Linked DNA regions of Homo sapiens: region 1 is linked to region 2. Evidence: fine-mapped expression QTL. Tissue or cell type: whole blood. Region 2 holds a variant in brackets; the other region holds the start of a gene. All regions are shown on one strand. Distances are between the middles of the regions.

The links. PIP is the estimated chance that this variant, and not a neighbour inherited with it, causes the effect.
Region 1: it holds the start of APPL2, and the variant in region 2 is fine-mapped to the expression of APPL2 in whole blood (INTERVAL, PIP 0.95).

The regions. Positions count from the first base shown.
Region 1 is chr12:105,231,348-105,239,347 of GRCh38, forward strand. APPL2 (adaptor protein, phosphotyrosine interacting with PH domain and leucine zipper 2) reads right to left here and starts at 4,827. Exons shown (of 21, transcript NM_018171.5): 1 at 4,612-4,827. The coding sequence starts at 4,665. RefSeq lists silencers at 4,406-4,655, 4,706-4,845 and an enhancer at 4,710-5,210.
Region 2 is chr12:105,179,687-105,187,954 of GRCh38, forward strand. All of the region lies in intron 17 of APPL2 (adaptor protein, phosphotyrosine interacting with PH domain and leucine zipper 2), which reads right to left. Among named protein-coding and RNA genes, the nearest start is that of APPL2, 52 kb to the right of the region's middle. The variant CTT/C (reference allele first, on the strand shown) is at 3,384.

The DNA of each region.
Region 1 (8,000 bases), 52 kb after region 2:
AAAACTAAAATTACCACTTACTCTGTACCACCTATGTGCTGGACGCTGTGCTGGGCACTAAACATATGTGACTTCATTTAATTCTTCTAGCAACTCTCCAAGGTAGATTCCATGGTTCCATTAACTTCATTTTACTGATGATGAAACTGAGGCTCATCAAGGTTAAGAAATGTGTTCAACCTCCCACTGTAGGAATGTGGCAGGGCTGGGATGTAAATGGGTCGGCAGCACTGAGGTCACCAGCAGGGTGGCTCTCATCAGCGAGCATGATCTTTGGTCCACAGCGTACAGCCCTGACTGGAGGCAGGACAGGGGCAGACTGGAGCTGGATGCTACTACCATGTTCCCGCCCACAATACCTGCCAGAGAACTACATCACAAGTGTCCTTTTTCCTTATATCGTGGAAATGCAACTGTGATGCCCATTAGAACTGACAGGGAAACTCTGGTCTTCCCTTTTTAATTTAACTTGGCAGTGATCACCTCTGGAAAAAATATAACCAGCTACCTTGGACACTGGCTATCCTCATTTACTATACTGTGTCTGCTCAAACTTTGGTTTGGAACAACAGAGATATTCTGAGACATAAAGAAGGAATGAGACCAAGAATAAAGCAAAGGCACACCAGTAGCTCAAAATCCCACGGTCAGAAAGACACGGTCAGAAAGACACTGGTATATCTCACTTACAAAGATAACAACAGCAATCATTTATGGGGTTACTATGGCATGCCAGCATGGAGACACTTTACATATGTTACTTGTTCTTCCTAACAACTCAACTAAATAGCTATTTTTATTTTTATTTTACATACCTCCAAACACAACCTCAGAGAGATTGAGTAACTTGCCAAAAGTAACAGTAGCAGATTCAGGAGTGGAATTCCATCCATTTTCTACTGCCCGACACTTTTAAGGGTATGCTCGGCCAGAGAAACAAATCCAAGCACCCTATGCACACAGCCTCAGCTCCCTATCACTCCTTTACCTTAAAGAAACTGGGTATTACCTAATAAAACACTCCTAGACATTCTCAAGAATAGTGTGTGTAATTGTGTAGTGGCCCAATGTTAACACCACTGACTACTGAGAAAATTTTAAGGTTATAAACAAAGTTCTTATCTCCATAATTTGGTGGAGGAAGAGAATGTCCTAGTGAAAAGAACCAAGACTTTGGGAGGCCAAGACAGGAAGATTGGTTGAGCCCAGGAGTTCAAGACCACCCTGGGCAACACAGCAAGACTCTGTCTCTACAAAAATTAAAAAATTAGCCATGCGTGGTGATGCATGCCTGTAGTCCTAGCTACTCAGAAGGCTGAGGTGGGAGGATCGCTTGAGCCCAGGAGGCTGAGGCTGCAGTGAGCCGTGTTCATGCCACTGCACCCCAGTCTGGGCAACAAAGCGAGACCCTGTCTCAAAAAAAAAAAAAAAAAAAAAAAGAACCAAGTCTATTGAAAGGAAAAATAGGTTATAAACAAAAAGAGGAACAGCACAAAACATCTCCACAGTGAAGACATATAAAACCACCAGGTTATGTTTTGAGATTATCTTGTTTGAGGAAAGAAAGGCCTGATTTGGTTGGAGAGGGCTGCTCCCAGCCGGGCCACTCAACTGCATAACCTCAGAACTACATCTTTTATTTCTTTGTTCCGTTATGCCAATCGCAAAAGAAACAAACAAAACACAAACCGAGCAAGCAACAGTGCTGTTGTCTTCACCTTACCTCAAAAGTGTACTACTTACAGGACAAGAGAATAAGCCCCTGAAGAAGTACAAGCTGCAGGAGCTCAAAGCTGCATTTGTGTTCCTATCGCAGCAGGATTCACACTGTACTGGAACTGTTGCCTCATTATCTGTCTCTGGAACAAACTGTGAACCAGTCAAGGGTAGTCACTCTTATTTATCTTCACATTCCCAACAGCCAGTAGTGCCAGGCAAGGAGCAGAGGCTTCTAAACAACAATGGAGGCAGATTTCTTAATCCCTAAAATGTTCAGCTTCCCACATATGAGAGGTAAGCAGAAATAACGCATGTGTATGCACACAGACTAGTTTTACAATGCATCGTGCAGCACTGCAAACTAAAAAGGAGTCCATGAATAGATGTGTCTAAGGTCAGTTAACTGCTATTCAGCTCTTCCTGGGTCACTCAGTTCAATTACAAAAGCTTTGGTGTTCATTTAATTCATCCTGTGCAATCACATTACTGAAGCAACTCTCAAAATTACTCTTCATAAAACTAGAAGAAACACACAATAGATGGTTTATTAGGATCTTTTCCTTTTAGTGAAACATTTTAGGTCACTGATGACAGAAAAGCCCGGTGCTAGATAGCTGGGCTAACTTGAACCATATCCCTAGTACAGGCAAGTTGCCTGGGTTCCAGTCCTGGCTCTGTCACTTTATGGTGTATAATTCTAAGCAAATTACTTCTCTGCTCCTTAGTTATTTAAATAGAGAATGTACTTCAAGACTATTGGGAGGATTGAGTGAGTTAATATATGTAAAGCATTTAGAAGAGTCCCTGGCACATAAAATCCATGAAACAGGCATTTGCTATTGTTTTTATGCTTTGCACATAAAATGAAGGGGATGGATTAGATTCCTTCCAGTTCCAAGTCTAGGAGTCACCTTGGGAGTAAAGCTACATTAGGCACAGGTCACATACAAGAGAGTAGTATATAAATATGCTCTGATGATCATTAAAGACCTTCTTAAAGTCAGCTTCCATTCTGCACAACAGCACCATCAAGAGCCCTCTTAAGGGTGATGGCCAAGTCTCAAAAGCAATGACAAATAAACTTCCTATATTAAAAGGAACATATTAAATAAGAATGATAATATCTCTAAACCTCCTCTGCCACATACAAGTTCAAAGTTATACACCATGTAGATATGACAATGTTAACTCTAAAGCACCTTGAAGATCACCTGCTCCCTCCCTGTCTCTCATTCTGTAGATGTTCTGTAGATTAGGAAACTGAGCCAGCTACAGGGTGGAGATGAAGAGACTCACCCACATCACATCCTAAGTGAGCGTGAGAGCCAGAATTAGAACCCAGGTCTCCTGACTTGCTCTACAGTCCTGTCTACTTCCTCACAGCTGGGCAAATCCTTTAAGCCACTCACAAACAGTGTATATTCCTTTATGTTAGAGCTGGAAATTAAGAATATGATCTGTTTGTGAGGACAACATCAAGAATCAGTTAGTATAATCACTGTAACCTGGCTTAGGCATCACCATGTAGGTTAGAAAAGCAGGATATTTCTGTGCACCTCAGTTTCCATAAGTGCAAGGCAAACAGAGATCCTTGTTCAAAGTGATCATTTAAAATCTCACATTGCTATCTTCAGATTCCACACAACAGATATGAACATGGACAAAATGCCTTCTACCAAGGGCTTTAGTCTGATTAAAATGCCAGGAGTCTACAGCCATATAAAAAAGGGAGGCCTTGAAAAAGTCGTCCAGAGGATGCAAACTTACCAAAAAACAAAACAAACAAACAAAAAACACACACACAGCTTGCTTCCAGTTCCTTACTTATCTACACTAGGAGGATCACAAAAAATGAACAAAAGACACCTATGCATACAGCCCTTCGGACTTATTCTGAACTGTCGATGTAGGTAAATCCATACAAGGATCATCCTGGGAAGTATTATTCACTTAGAAGAAAAAGGGAAGGAACCCCAAAAGAGAGGGGAAAGTGTGAAACGAAAATAGGTTAATCTTATTCTAAGTTTTCAAGAGTTGAGACACTAGGAAATAAAGGCACTTATTTAAATAAACCCGGGATGCTGAACCAGGAGTGTAGGTACGAAGCTGGAGAAATGTTAAACAAAGGAGAACAAAAGACCCCTGGGGAAAGATGTGCTGAATTATGAACTAATGTCATCCTGCACTCATTTGCTATATTTACACACCAGTTTTCATCTGCAGAGCTCAAAGGACTTGACTCTCATCTCGAGTGTGCTAATGAAGTTCCCTTGTGCGACAAATGGGGCAGGTACTGTATTTTTCTCTTCACTAATGGGAAAACGGTGCCAAAAGGAGGCCTGGTACCGCCGGAAAAGAGATCCAGGCCCTCTGCCTCTCATTCTGGCTGGCACAAGTCTCATCACATCATTAGGAGTAGCAGTAATAAGACTGACTCATTATCTGTACCGGACATTGTCTGCTGACAACTTTACAGGTATTTCTCATTGACTTCTCCTAACAACCCTATGAAGCAGGCACAATTATTATTCCTATTTTACAGACGACAAAACTAAGGCACAATAAGGTGGTTTTCCTGAGGCACTCAGCTACTACATGGAATCAAAGTTTAGATCTCGCAGACTCAGTTGCAGCTGAGCTTGCAGGGGGGTCACGACATCAAGACTCCGGCCGCGGGGCTCTCTCCCCTGTTCCACAGCTCTGCCCCGGCTCAGGACTCAGGGCCCGGCCCGCCCCCTCCTCAGCCCGAGAGAACCCGGTGGGAGGCGCCGCGAGGGGGCCGGGCGCACTCCCGCGGCTGCCCGGCCGGGGGCGCGGCCTCCACTCCGGGGCTGGAGGGGCCTCCTCGGCCTCACCCCTGCGGGCGAGGGGCACCGGAGCGGCGGGAGGTACCTGGGGGCTGTCCTGCAACGCCTCCTCTAGCAGGAGCTTGTCCACGGCGGGCATGGTGCGGCGCGGCTCAGCCGAGGGCTGGGTTGGAAGGACAGAGGGCAGGAGACGCGGCGGCCGAGAGCACTCCCCGGCTCTGGGCTCAGGCGACGCGGCGGCCACTCCGTGCCCGCGGCGGCCCCGCGCGCGTCCACGCCTGGCCAGTGGCCGCCGCCGCCTGCCCGCCGGCCCAGCCCCCGGCCGAGCCGGATCAACAGGAAGTGTGGCGCGCCCGGCAGGGAAACCGGAAGTGTGGTGAGCTCCGGTCCCGACACCGGAAATGTGGCGCCCGCGCTTCCGCCTGCGCTCGCCGGCTCGCGGGGAGCGGGGGGCTCTGGGTGCCAGTCCCGTTGCTGAGGGAACCCTTCGGGTGTTTGTTCTCTGTGCTGAAGGTCCGTCAAGTCAATGCATATGAAGTCCAAAAGAGGAACTCGAGGGTAGAAAGATAAGGTTTTATCTGCTTATGGCTACCCAGAAAGCCTTTTGAGTTGAAGGAGCGAACAGATTTTTTCTTTTAATGGAAGGAAAAACCCACACTTCCCACACCACTTTTTCTAGATAAATTTCGACGCCCCTGAAACAGCTCTGAGAGCAAAGAGGTCGCCTATGCTATGGGAACAAAGAAAAGAGGAGAAAAGCTGGATAACTGACTCGTCTGTGATAATCAGAAATAACCACTTTGGAAACCACAGCTATTTGATGTGGTCATAATTAGGTCTCGTCCTCCTGGTTTATGTTTTGTGATTTTGGAGAATTTCATAATCAAATGTTTAGAATTGGAAGGGCTAGATAATCTAGGTTCCAGTGTTGTCATTTAGAGATGAGAAAATGGGACCCAGAGAAATAAGTGGTCTGCCCAGGGTCAGTTAGTAAACGCCAGAGGAAGAAAAGAAGGAAGGGAGAGGGATGGAAGAAGACTGGCAAGTGGAACGTGACACCTTTTTACACGGAAGGCAAGGGTTTCTGAAGTTCCTTCTTTAGAAGTTAATAAGACTGGCCGGGCGTGGTGGTTCACGCCTGTAATCCCAGCACTTTGGGAGGCCGAGATGGGTGGATCACGAGGTCAGGAGTTCAAGACCAGTCTGGCCAAGATGCTGAAACCCCGTCTCTACTAAAAATACAAAAATTAGCCGGGCGTGGTGGCATGCGCCTGTAATCCCAGCTACTCGGGAGGCTGAGGCAGAAGAATCACTTGAACCCGGGAGGCAGAGGTTTCAGTGAGCCGAGAGGGCACCACTGCACTCCAGCCTGGGCAACAGAGCAAGACTCCGTCTCAAAAAAAAAAAAAAAAATCATGCAGTATGTGTGTCACCAAAATCAACAGAGGGGATATGGTAATATATAAATTCTGCATTCTGCAGAGACCTCTTAGGTATATCAAGACCCAATCTGCATTGCTGACACCTCTGACAGTCTAGTATAGTAGCATGCTGCCTGATCACTTGAAAACTCCAAGGCCATTATTCCCTTGGTCTGGCCAGCGCCAACCTGACCTGAACCATTTTATGGCCTCCATCTACCATATTTTCCTCCACAGTATTCTTTCTTCCCTATTCTTTCTTGCCTCCACCATACTCTTGTCTTCCCTATAGGTGGAATCATGCTCACACCATATTTCTTCCCTTTCCTCTATTTTATACCGCCTGCCATTCAGTTCATTTTACCTCATCCAGTGTCCCAGACTCTCTTCTCACTGAAATCTAATTCCTCACGGCCAGACTCATGCTCTTCCTTCATCCTGATTGCGAGAACAGTACAAGGATAGTATTATACCCAGGGAAATAAATGTGCACATTTTAATTTGAAAATATGCATTACAAGAAGTTAGTGCCCTCAGAACCCTTGAAAGGGCTCAGACAGCCCCTTGGGAATCACAGCATTTTTCATGTACCACCTCATCTTCTAATTAAAGTTACTTTTCTTCAAATACTAGTATTCAACATTCAAAAATTGTTTAAGCTATCCCATTACTTTTCTGCATTTTCTTGCTACATTATGGGCTAAACAGCCTTAGTGGGATTTCTTGGAACTTAAGAACTGTTTACAACATTGTTTCTATGGGAAAATCTATCCCAAATTCAAAACAACTAAGTTACAAAAGTAGATCTGGAAATACAACACATGCATAAATGGTTTTAATTTATCTCATTTGTTAATTCATCCAATCATTCATTCATGTATTAAATATAGACTGCTCAGTGTTAAGCACTGTCTCCCACTTGTTTGATTCTCATTTAAATTCTGAAGGCAAATATCCTCTCCTTTGATAATCTGTGAGAAACTACATAAGAGGAATTTTTATGTCAACATGAACATTTAAAAATGTTTCATTAAAGAGTATATATCTGTTCCTATTAAACTATTATGCAGGTGGATTTTAGAAATCCACCCCACTGTCTCTGAAATCCCTGGTCAGCTGTGAAGTTGGTGACAGGAAGTATAAAGATGGACAGTCTGGAGTTGTCGTGATGTCTGAAGAGAGAGAGGATGAATTATATGGAGGTGTAACCTGTGACCCATTGAAGGCCAGTGGGGAAAAGGACACAGTGAGACACAAAAAAAGGACCCAGGATGGCCAGGTCAGAGAAGGCCTGGGGCTTCAGGAGTAAGAGAGAAAGGCAGGAGTGAAGAAGGCAGCTGTTTTGGGAGATGCTTAGCAAACTGCATGATAGGGCACACGCATTGAGATTCTTTCCTCTGCCAGTCAAGCCCTTTCTCCTGCCTCTTGTCTGACAAACCCAACCACAATCATCAAATCCCAGTTTAATGTGACTTTTTTGATGAAGTCTTCATTTACTCCTGTCCCCCCAAGCAGAATACATTTTCCTTTCCTTGAGTGTGCTTCAGTAGCACTTGCCGAGATAATTCTAGAATAACACTTACCTCTCTTTGTTTCCACCTCCAACCTTCCAGCTAGAATGGGTAGGAACTTGGTCTTATTTATTTCTGTAATTAGAGTGCCTAGTACATTACCTAGCACAAAAGCAGTTGCTTGATAAATACTTACTAAACTATAATGTGTTATTATAACTTATACATGATTGATACTCCAGAGTTTAAAAAATGTTTTCATGAATCTCATTTCATTTGATAGCACAATGCTGCTTTTGCCGTTAATCATTCACTAGGTAGCACCGACTGTGTGTTAGACTCTTCTCTAGAAGCTGAGGATATAGGCTGAAGCAAAAAGTAGTCCTTGCCCTAATGGAGTTTATATTCTAATGGAGGAAATAATAAGAAACAAATACAAGTTGATAAGTGTATGATAACCTTTAGTAAAGGAATAGAGGATCATGGGAAGTGGAAAGGATTCTTTGAGGTGTGCAACTGTTGAGCTGAGAATTGAATCAGGG
Region 2 (8,268 bases):
GATGGTATCTCATTGTGGTTTTGATTTGCATTTCTCTAACGACCAGTGATGATGAGCTTTTTTTCACGTTTGTCAGCCGCATGTCTTCTTTTGAAAAATGTCTGTTCATATCCTTCACCCACTTTTTGACGGGGTTGTTTTATTCTTGTAAATGTGTTTAAGTTCTTTGTAGATTCTGGATATTAGCCCTCTGTCAGATGGATAGATTGAAAAAATTTTCTCCCATTCTGTAGGTTGCCTGTTCACTCTGATGATAGTTTCTTTTGCTGTGCAGAAGCTCTTTAGTTTAATTAGACCCCATTTGTCAATTTTGGCTTTTGTTGCCATTGCTTCTGGTGTTTTCATCATGAACTCTTTGCCCATGCCTCTGTCCTGAATGGTATTGCCTAGGTTTTCTTCTAGGGTTTTTATGGTTTTAGGTCTTACATTTAAATCTTTAATCCATCTTGACTTAATTTTTGTATAAGGTGTTAAGAGGAAGGGGTCCAGTTTCAGTTTTCTGCATATGGCTAGCCAGTTTTCCCAACATCATTTATTAAATAGGGAGTCCTTTCCTCATTTCTTGTTTTTGTCAGGTTTGTCAAAGATCAGATGGTTGTAGATGTTTGGTGTTATTTCTGAGGCCTCTGTTCTGTTCCATTGGTCTATATATCTGTTTTGGTACCAGTACCATGCTGTTTTGGTTACTGTAGCCTTGTAGTATAGTTTGAAGTCAGGTAGCATGATACCTCCAGCTTTGTTCCTTTTGCTTAGGATTATCTGGGCTATGCGGGCTCTTTTTTGGTTCCATATGAAATTTAAAGTAGTTTTTTCTAACTCTGTTAAGAAAGTCAGTGGTAGCTTGATGGGAATAGCACTATTACTTTGGGCAGTATGGCCATTTTCACGATATTGATTCTTCCTATCCATGAGCATGGCATGTTTTTCCATTTGTTTGTGTCCTCTCTTATTTCCTTGAGCAGTGGTTTGTAGTTCTCCTTGAAGAGGTCCTTCACATCCCTTGTAAGTTGTATTCCTAGGTATTTTATTCTCTTAGTAGCAATTGTGAATGGGAGTTCACTCATGATTTGGCTGTTTGTGTATTATTGGTGTATAGGAATGCTTGTGATTTTTGCACATTAATTTTGTATCCTGAGACTTTGCTGACGTTGCTTATCAGCTTAAGGAGTTTTTGGGCTGAGACGATGGAGTTTTCTAAACATACAATCATGTCATCTTTAAACAGAGATAATCTGACTTCCTCTCTTCCTATTTGAATACCCTCATTGCTTTCTCTTGCCTGACTGCCCTGGCCAGAACTTCCAATATTATGTTGAATAGGAGTGGTGAGAGAGGGCATCCTTGTCTTGTGCTAATTTTCAAAGGGAATGCTTCCAGTTTTTGCCCATTCAGTATGATACTGGCTGTGAGTTTGTCATAAATAGCTCATTATTTTGAGATATGTTCCATCAATACCTAGTTTATTGAGTGTTTTTAGCATGAAGGGGTGTTGAATTTTATCGAAGGCCTTTTCTGCATCTATTGAGATAATCATGTGGTTTTTGTCATTGGTTCTGTTTACGTGATGGATTACATTTACTGATTTGCGTATGTCGAACCAGCCTTGCATCCCAGGGATGAAGCCAACTTGATCATGGTGGATAAGCTTTTTAATGTGCTGCTGGATTCAGTTTGCTGGTATTTTATTGAGGATTTTTGCATTGATGTTCATCAGGGGTATTGCCCTGAAATTGTGTTTTTTTATTGTGTCTCTGCCAGGTTTTGGTATCAGGATGATGCTGGCTTCATAAAATGAGTTAGGGAGGAGTCCCTCTTTTTCTATTGTTTGGAATAGTTTTAGAAGGAATGGTACCAGCTCCTCTTTGTAACTCTGGTAGAATGTGGCTGTGAATCCATCTGGTCCTGGGCTTTTTTTTGGTTGGTAGGCTATTAATTATTGCCTCAATTTCAGAACTTGTTATCGGTCTATTCAGGGATTCAACTTCTTCCTGGTTTAATCTTGGGAGGGTGTATGTGTCCAGGAATTTATCCATTTCTTCTAGATTTTCTAGTTTATTTGCATACAGGTGTTTATAGTATTCTCTGTTGGTAGTTTGTATTTCTCTGGGATCAGTGGTGATAATCCCCTTTATCATTTTTTATTGTGTCTGTTTGATTCTTCTCTCTTTTCTTCTTTATTAGTCTGGCTAGCAGTCTATCAATTTTGTTAATCTTTTCAAAAAACCAGCTCCTGGATTCATTGATTTTTGAAGGGTTTTTCGTGTCTCTATCTCCTTCAGTTCTGCTCTCATCTTAGTTATTTCTTGTCTTCTGCTAGCTTTTGAATTTGTTTACTCTTGCTTCTCCAGTTTTTTTGAGATGGAGTTTTGCTCTTGTTGCCCAGGCTGGAGTGCAATGGCATGATCTCGGCTCACTGCAACCTCCACCTCCCTGGGTTCAAGTGATTCTCCTGCTCCAGCCTCTCCAGTAGCTGGGATTACATAGGTGCCTGCCACCACACCTAGCAAATTTTTTGTATTTTTAGTAGAGACAGGGTTTCATCATGTTGGCCAGGCTGGTCTCAAACTCCTGACCTCAGGTGATCCACCTGCCTTGGCCTCCCAAAGTGGTGGGATTACAGGCATGAGCCATGGTGCCCAACCTTCTAGTTCTTTTAATTGTGATGTTAGGATGTCAATTTTAGATCTTTCCCACTTTTTCCTGTGTGCATTTAGTGCTATAAAAACATTGCTTTAGCTGTGTTCCAGAGATTGTGGTATGTTGTGTCCTTGTTCTCATTGATTTCAAGTAATTTATTTATTTTTGCCTTAATTTCATTATTTATTTACCCAGCAGTCATTCAGGAACAGGTTGTTCAGTTTCCATGTAGTTGTGCAGTTTTGAATGACTTTCTTAATCCAGAGTTCTAATTTGATTGCACTGTGGTCTGAGAGACAGTTTGTTGTGATTTCTGTTCTTTTGCATTTGTTGAGGAGTATTTTACTTCCGATTATGTGGTCAATTTTAGAATAAGTGTGACGTGGTGCTGAGAAGAATGTATATTTTGTTGATTTGGGATGGAGCATTCTGTAGATGTGTGTTAGTTCCACTTGGTCCAGAGCTGAGTTTAAGTCCTGAATATCCTTGTTAATTTTCTGTCTTGTTGATCTAATATTGACAGTGGGGTGCTAAAGTCTCCCAATATTATTGTGTGGGAGTCTAAGTCTCTTTGTAGATCTCTAAGAACTTGTTTTACGAATCTGGGTGCTTCTGTATTGGGTATATATATATTTAGGATAGTTAGCTTTTCTTGTTGCATTGATCCCTTTACCACTATGTAATGCCCTTCTTTGTCTTTTTTGATTTCAAGTCCGTTTTATCAGAGACTAGGATTGCAACCCCTG[CTT/C]TTTTTTTTTTTTTTTTTTTTGCTTTCCATTTGCTTGGTAAATCTTCCTCCATCCCTTTATTTTGAGCCTATGTGTGTCTCTGCACATGAGATGGGTCTCCTGAATACAGCAAACTGATGGGTCTTGACTCTTTATCCAATGTGCCAGTCTGTGTCTTTTAATTGGGGCATTTAGCCTGTTTACATTTAAGGTTAATATTGTTATGTGTGAATGTGATCCTGTCATTATGATGGTAGCTGGTTATTTTGCCTGTTAGTTGATGCAGTTTCTTCACAGTGCTGATGGTTTTTACATTTTGGTATGTTTTTGCAGTGGCTGGTACTGGTTTTTCCTTTCCATATTTAGTGCTTCCTTCAGGAGCTCTTGTAAAGCAGGTGTGGTGGTGACAACATCCTTCAGCATTTGCTTGTCTGTAAAGGATTTTATTTCTCCTTTGCTTATGAAGCTTAGTTTGGCTGGATATGAAATTCTGGGTTGAAAATTCTTTTCCTTAAGAATGTTAAATGTGTGCCCCCACTCTTTTCTGGGTTGTAGCGTTTCTGCAGAGAGATCCGCCGTTAGTCTGATGGGTTTCCCTTTGTGGGTAATGTGACCTTTCTCTCTGGCTGCCCTTAACATTTTTTCCTTCATTTCAACCTTGGTGAATCTGATGATTATGTGTCTTGGGGTTGCTCTTCTCGAGGAGTATCTTTGTGGTGTTCTCTGTATTTCCTGAATTTGAATGTTGGCTTGTCTTGCTAGGTTGTGGAAGTTCTCCTGGATAATATCCTGAAGAGTGTTTTCTAACTTGGTTCCATTCTCCCTGTCACTTTCAGGTACACCAATCAAATATAGGTTTGGTCTTTTCACATAGTCCCATATTTCTTAGAGGCTTTATTCACTCATTTTCATTCTTTTTTCTCTAATCTTGTCTTCACACTTTATTTCATTAAGTTAATCTTCAATCTCTGGTATCCTTTCTTCCACTTGATCGATTTGACTATTGATACTTGTGTATGCTTCACGAAGTTCTCGTGCTGTGTTTTTCATCTCCATCAGGTTATTTATGTTCTTCTCTAAACTGGTTATTCCAGTTAGCAGTTCCTATAACCTTTTATCCAGATTCTTAGCTTCCTCGCATTGGGTTAGAACATGCTCCTTTAGCTTGGAGGAGTTTGTTATTACTCACCTTCTGAAGCCTCTTTCTGTAAATTCTTCAAACTCATTCTCCGTCCAATTTTGTTCCCTTGCTGGCAATGAGTTGTGATCCTTTGGAGGAGGAGAGGCATTCTGGTTTTTGGAATTTTCAGCCTTTCTGTGCTGCTTTTTCCTCATCTTTGTGGATTTATCTACCTTTGGTCTTTGATGCTGGTGACCTTTGGGTGGGGTTTTTGTGTAGTCATCCTTTTTGTTGATGTTGATGCTATAGCTTTCTGTTTGTTAGTTTTCCTTCAGGCCCCTCTTCTGCAGGTCTGCTGCAGTTTGCTGAAGGTACACTCCGGACTCTCTTTGCCTGGGTATCACCAGTGGAGGCTGCAGAATAGCAAAGACTGCTGCCTGCTCCTTCCTCTGGAAGCTTCATCCCAGAAGGGCACCCACCAGATGCCAGCTGGAACTCTCCTGTATGAGGTGTCTGTCGATTCCTGCTGGGAGGTGTCTCCCCGTCAGGAACCACCAGAGTCAGGGACTCACTTGAGGAGGCAGTCTGTCCCTTAGCAGAGCTCAAGCGTTGTGCTGGGAGACCTGCTGCTCTCTTGAGAGCTGGCAGGCAGGAACATTTAAGTCTGCTGAAACTGCGCCCACAGCCACCCCTTCCCCCAGGTGCTCTGTCCCAGGGAGATGGGAGTTTGATCTGTAAGCCCCTGACTGGGGGCTGCTACCTTTCTTTCAGAGATGCCCTGCCCAGAGAGGAGGAATCTAGAGAGGCAGTCTGGCTACAGCAGTTTTATGGCGCTGCGGCAGGCTCAGCCCAGTATGATCTTCCTGATGGCTTTCTTTACACTCTAAGGGGAAAACCACCTACTCAAGCCTCAGTAATGGCGGATGCCCCTCCCCCCCACCAAGCTCGAGCATCCCTGGTCAACTTCAGACTGCTGTGCTGCCAGTGAGAATTTCAAGCCAGTGGATCTCAGTGTGTTGGGCTCCGTGGTGATGGGATCCACTGAGCAAGACCACTTGGCTCCCTGGCTTCAGCCCCCTTTCCAGGGGAGTGAACAGTTGGGACTCGCTGAGGTTCAGACGCCACTGGGGTGCGAAAAAAATTCTCCTGCAGCTAGCTCAGTGTCTGCCCAAATGGCCGCCCAGTTTTGTCCTTGAAACTTAGGGCCCTGGTGGTGTAGGCACTCGATGGAATCTCCTGGTCTGCGGGCTGCAAAGACAGTGGCAAAAGCCTAGTATCTGGGCTGGATAGGTCTGTCCCTCACTCACGGCTTCCCTTGGCTAGGGGAGGGAGTTCCCCGACCCCTTGTGCTTCCTGGGTAATGCAATGCCGCACGCTACTTCTGCTTGCCCTCCATAGGCTGTACCCACTGTCTAACCAGTCCCAGTGAGATAAGCTGGGTACCGCAGTTGGAAATGCAGAAATCACCTGCCTTCTGTGTTGGTCTCACTGGGAGCTGCAGACTGGAGCTGTTCCTATTCAGGCACCTTGTCTGGGAATCAATTTTTCTTTTTAAATCTTCTAATTTTCTGTGTGACCTCTAAATGGTCTCAGAACCTATTCCACTGCAGGGGTATGTTTACTGTGGTGACGTATGCATAACGTCAGATTTATCATTAGTGATGTTAAGTGTCTTCATAACTTTGTGCAGCCATTACCACTATCTAGTCCCAGGACATTTTTATCATCCCAGAGGAAACTCCATCCCCATTAAGCAGTTACTCATTCCTCCTCCCACCCTCTGGCAATCTCTAGTCTGTCTTCTGTCTCTATGGATTTGCCTACTCTGGATATTTCATATAAACAGAACCCTACAGTATGTTGCCTTTTGTACCTGGCTTCTTTCACTTAGCACAATGATTTCATCATTCATCCATGTTGTAGCACTTATCAGTCCTTTGTTCCTTTTTAAGGCCAAATAGTATTCCATCATATATATATACAGGTTGAGTATCCTGTATCTGAAATTGTTTTGGATTTCAGCTTTTTTTTCAGATTTTAGAATACTTGCATTATATTTACCAGGATGAGCATCCCAAAATCCAAAATGCTCCAATGAGCATCTCTTTTGAGCATCAAGTTGGCACTCAAAAAGTTTCAGATTTTGGAGCATTTGAGATTTCCAGATTTGGAATGCTCAACTCTACCACATTTTGTTGATCCATTCATTTGATGTTGGGCATTTGTATTATTTCCACCATTTGGATATCACGAAAAGGACTGCTATGAACATTTGCGTATAAGTTTTTGTTTGAACACCTGTATTTAATTCTTTTGGGTAACTACCCAGGAGCCCGCCAAACTATTTTTTCACAGCAGCTGAACCATTTTATATTCCCACCAGCAATGGGTTCCAGTTTCTTCACATCCTTGCTAAACGCTTATTTTCCATTAAATATATATATCATATATATATCATATATATCATATATATGATATCGATATCATATATATCATATATATGATATATCATATATATATCATATATCATATCATATATCATATCATATATATATCATATATATCATATATATATAAACATCTGTGAGACAGTGTGCATGCGTGCGCACGCCATCTTAATATGGAGTGACATATCTCATTGTGGATTTGTTTTGCATTTCCCTAGTAACACATAGCATCTTTTCATGTCCTCATTGGCCATTTGTATATGATCTTTGGAAAAATGTCTATTTCAAGTCCTTGGTCCATTTTTTAATTGGGTTGTCTTTCTGTTGAGTTTTATAAGAGTTCTTTGTATATTTTGTGTACTACATCCATATTAGATAGAATTTGTGAATACTTTTTTCCCATTCTGTAGTTTTTCTTTTCACTTTGATGTGCTGTGGTTTTTCACAGTACTTTTACATATATTTTCCTTTGATCTTTTTGGTGGAAATTATTCCAGGACCAATAGGATTATAAGAACCATGAGCCCATTTCTGTAAAAGGTCCAGGACATAGTGAAAGAACAGGTTTTATTAATAAGAACTTAATTCTCAGATAAGGTTCATAATAAATGAAAAGGATGGGCTTAATGAATGGAAGAAGCTATATCCTAATTTTTGCTATAGTCCTAGTTACCTTTTTTGAAGCTAACGTTCATTGAGCACTTTTCATGTGCCAGTGAGTTGTAAATGTCTTACATATATTAGCACATTTATTCCTCATGACATTTATTCCTCATGACAACAGTGGAGGGTGTGAATAGTTACTTTCATTTTACAGCTGAAAAAACTGAGGTACAGAGGCTCAAAAATTTGCTTAAGGTCACATAACTAAGAAATGCCGAAGCCAGGAATAAACTGAGACATTCTGGCTCTAAAGCAGTGCTGTCCCTTAGAAATGTAATGGAAGCCTTATATGTCATCGAAGTTTTTCCAGCGGCCACATTAAGTGAAAAGTAACAGATAAAATTAATTTTACTTAATCCAGTATATCTAAAATATTACCAGACATGTGATTAACCTAAAAAATTAGTGAGATGTTTTACATCCTAAATCTTAGAAATTTGGTATGTATTTAACACTGAAAACACATCTCAGTTCAGGCTAGTTTTGCTGCAGATGCTACCTGTGGCTACAGTATCATACACCCATGTTCATAACCAGGATTTTGGTCATATCTGAAACCCAGATCGTATTACCTGAAACACTAAATCATGTAGTTAATATGGCCTGCTCTCTCTGTGATGGCCAAGTTATTTAGGCAGATTTTTAAGTTTTTTTCCATTATTTTTTATAAATA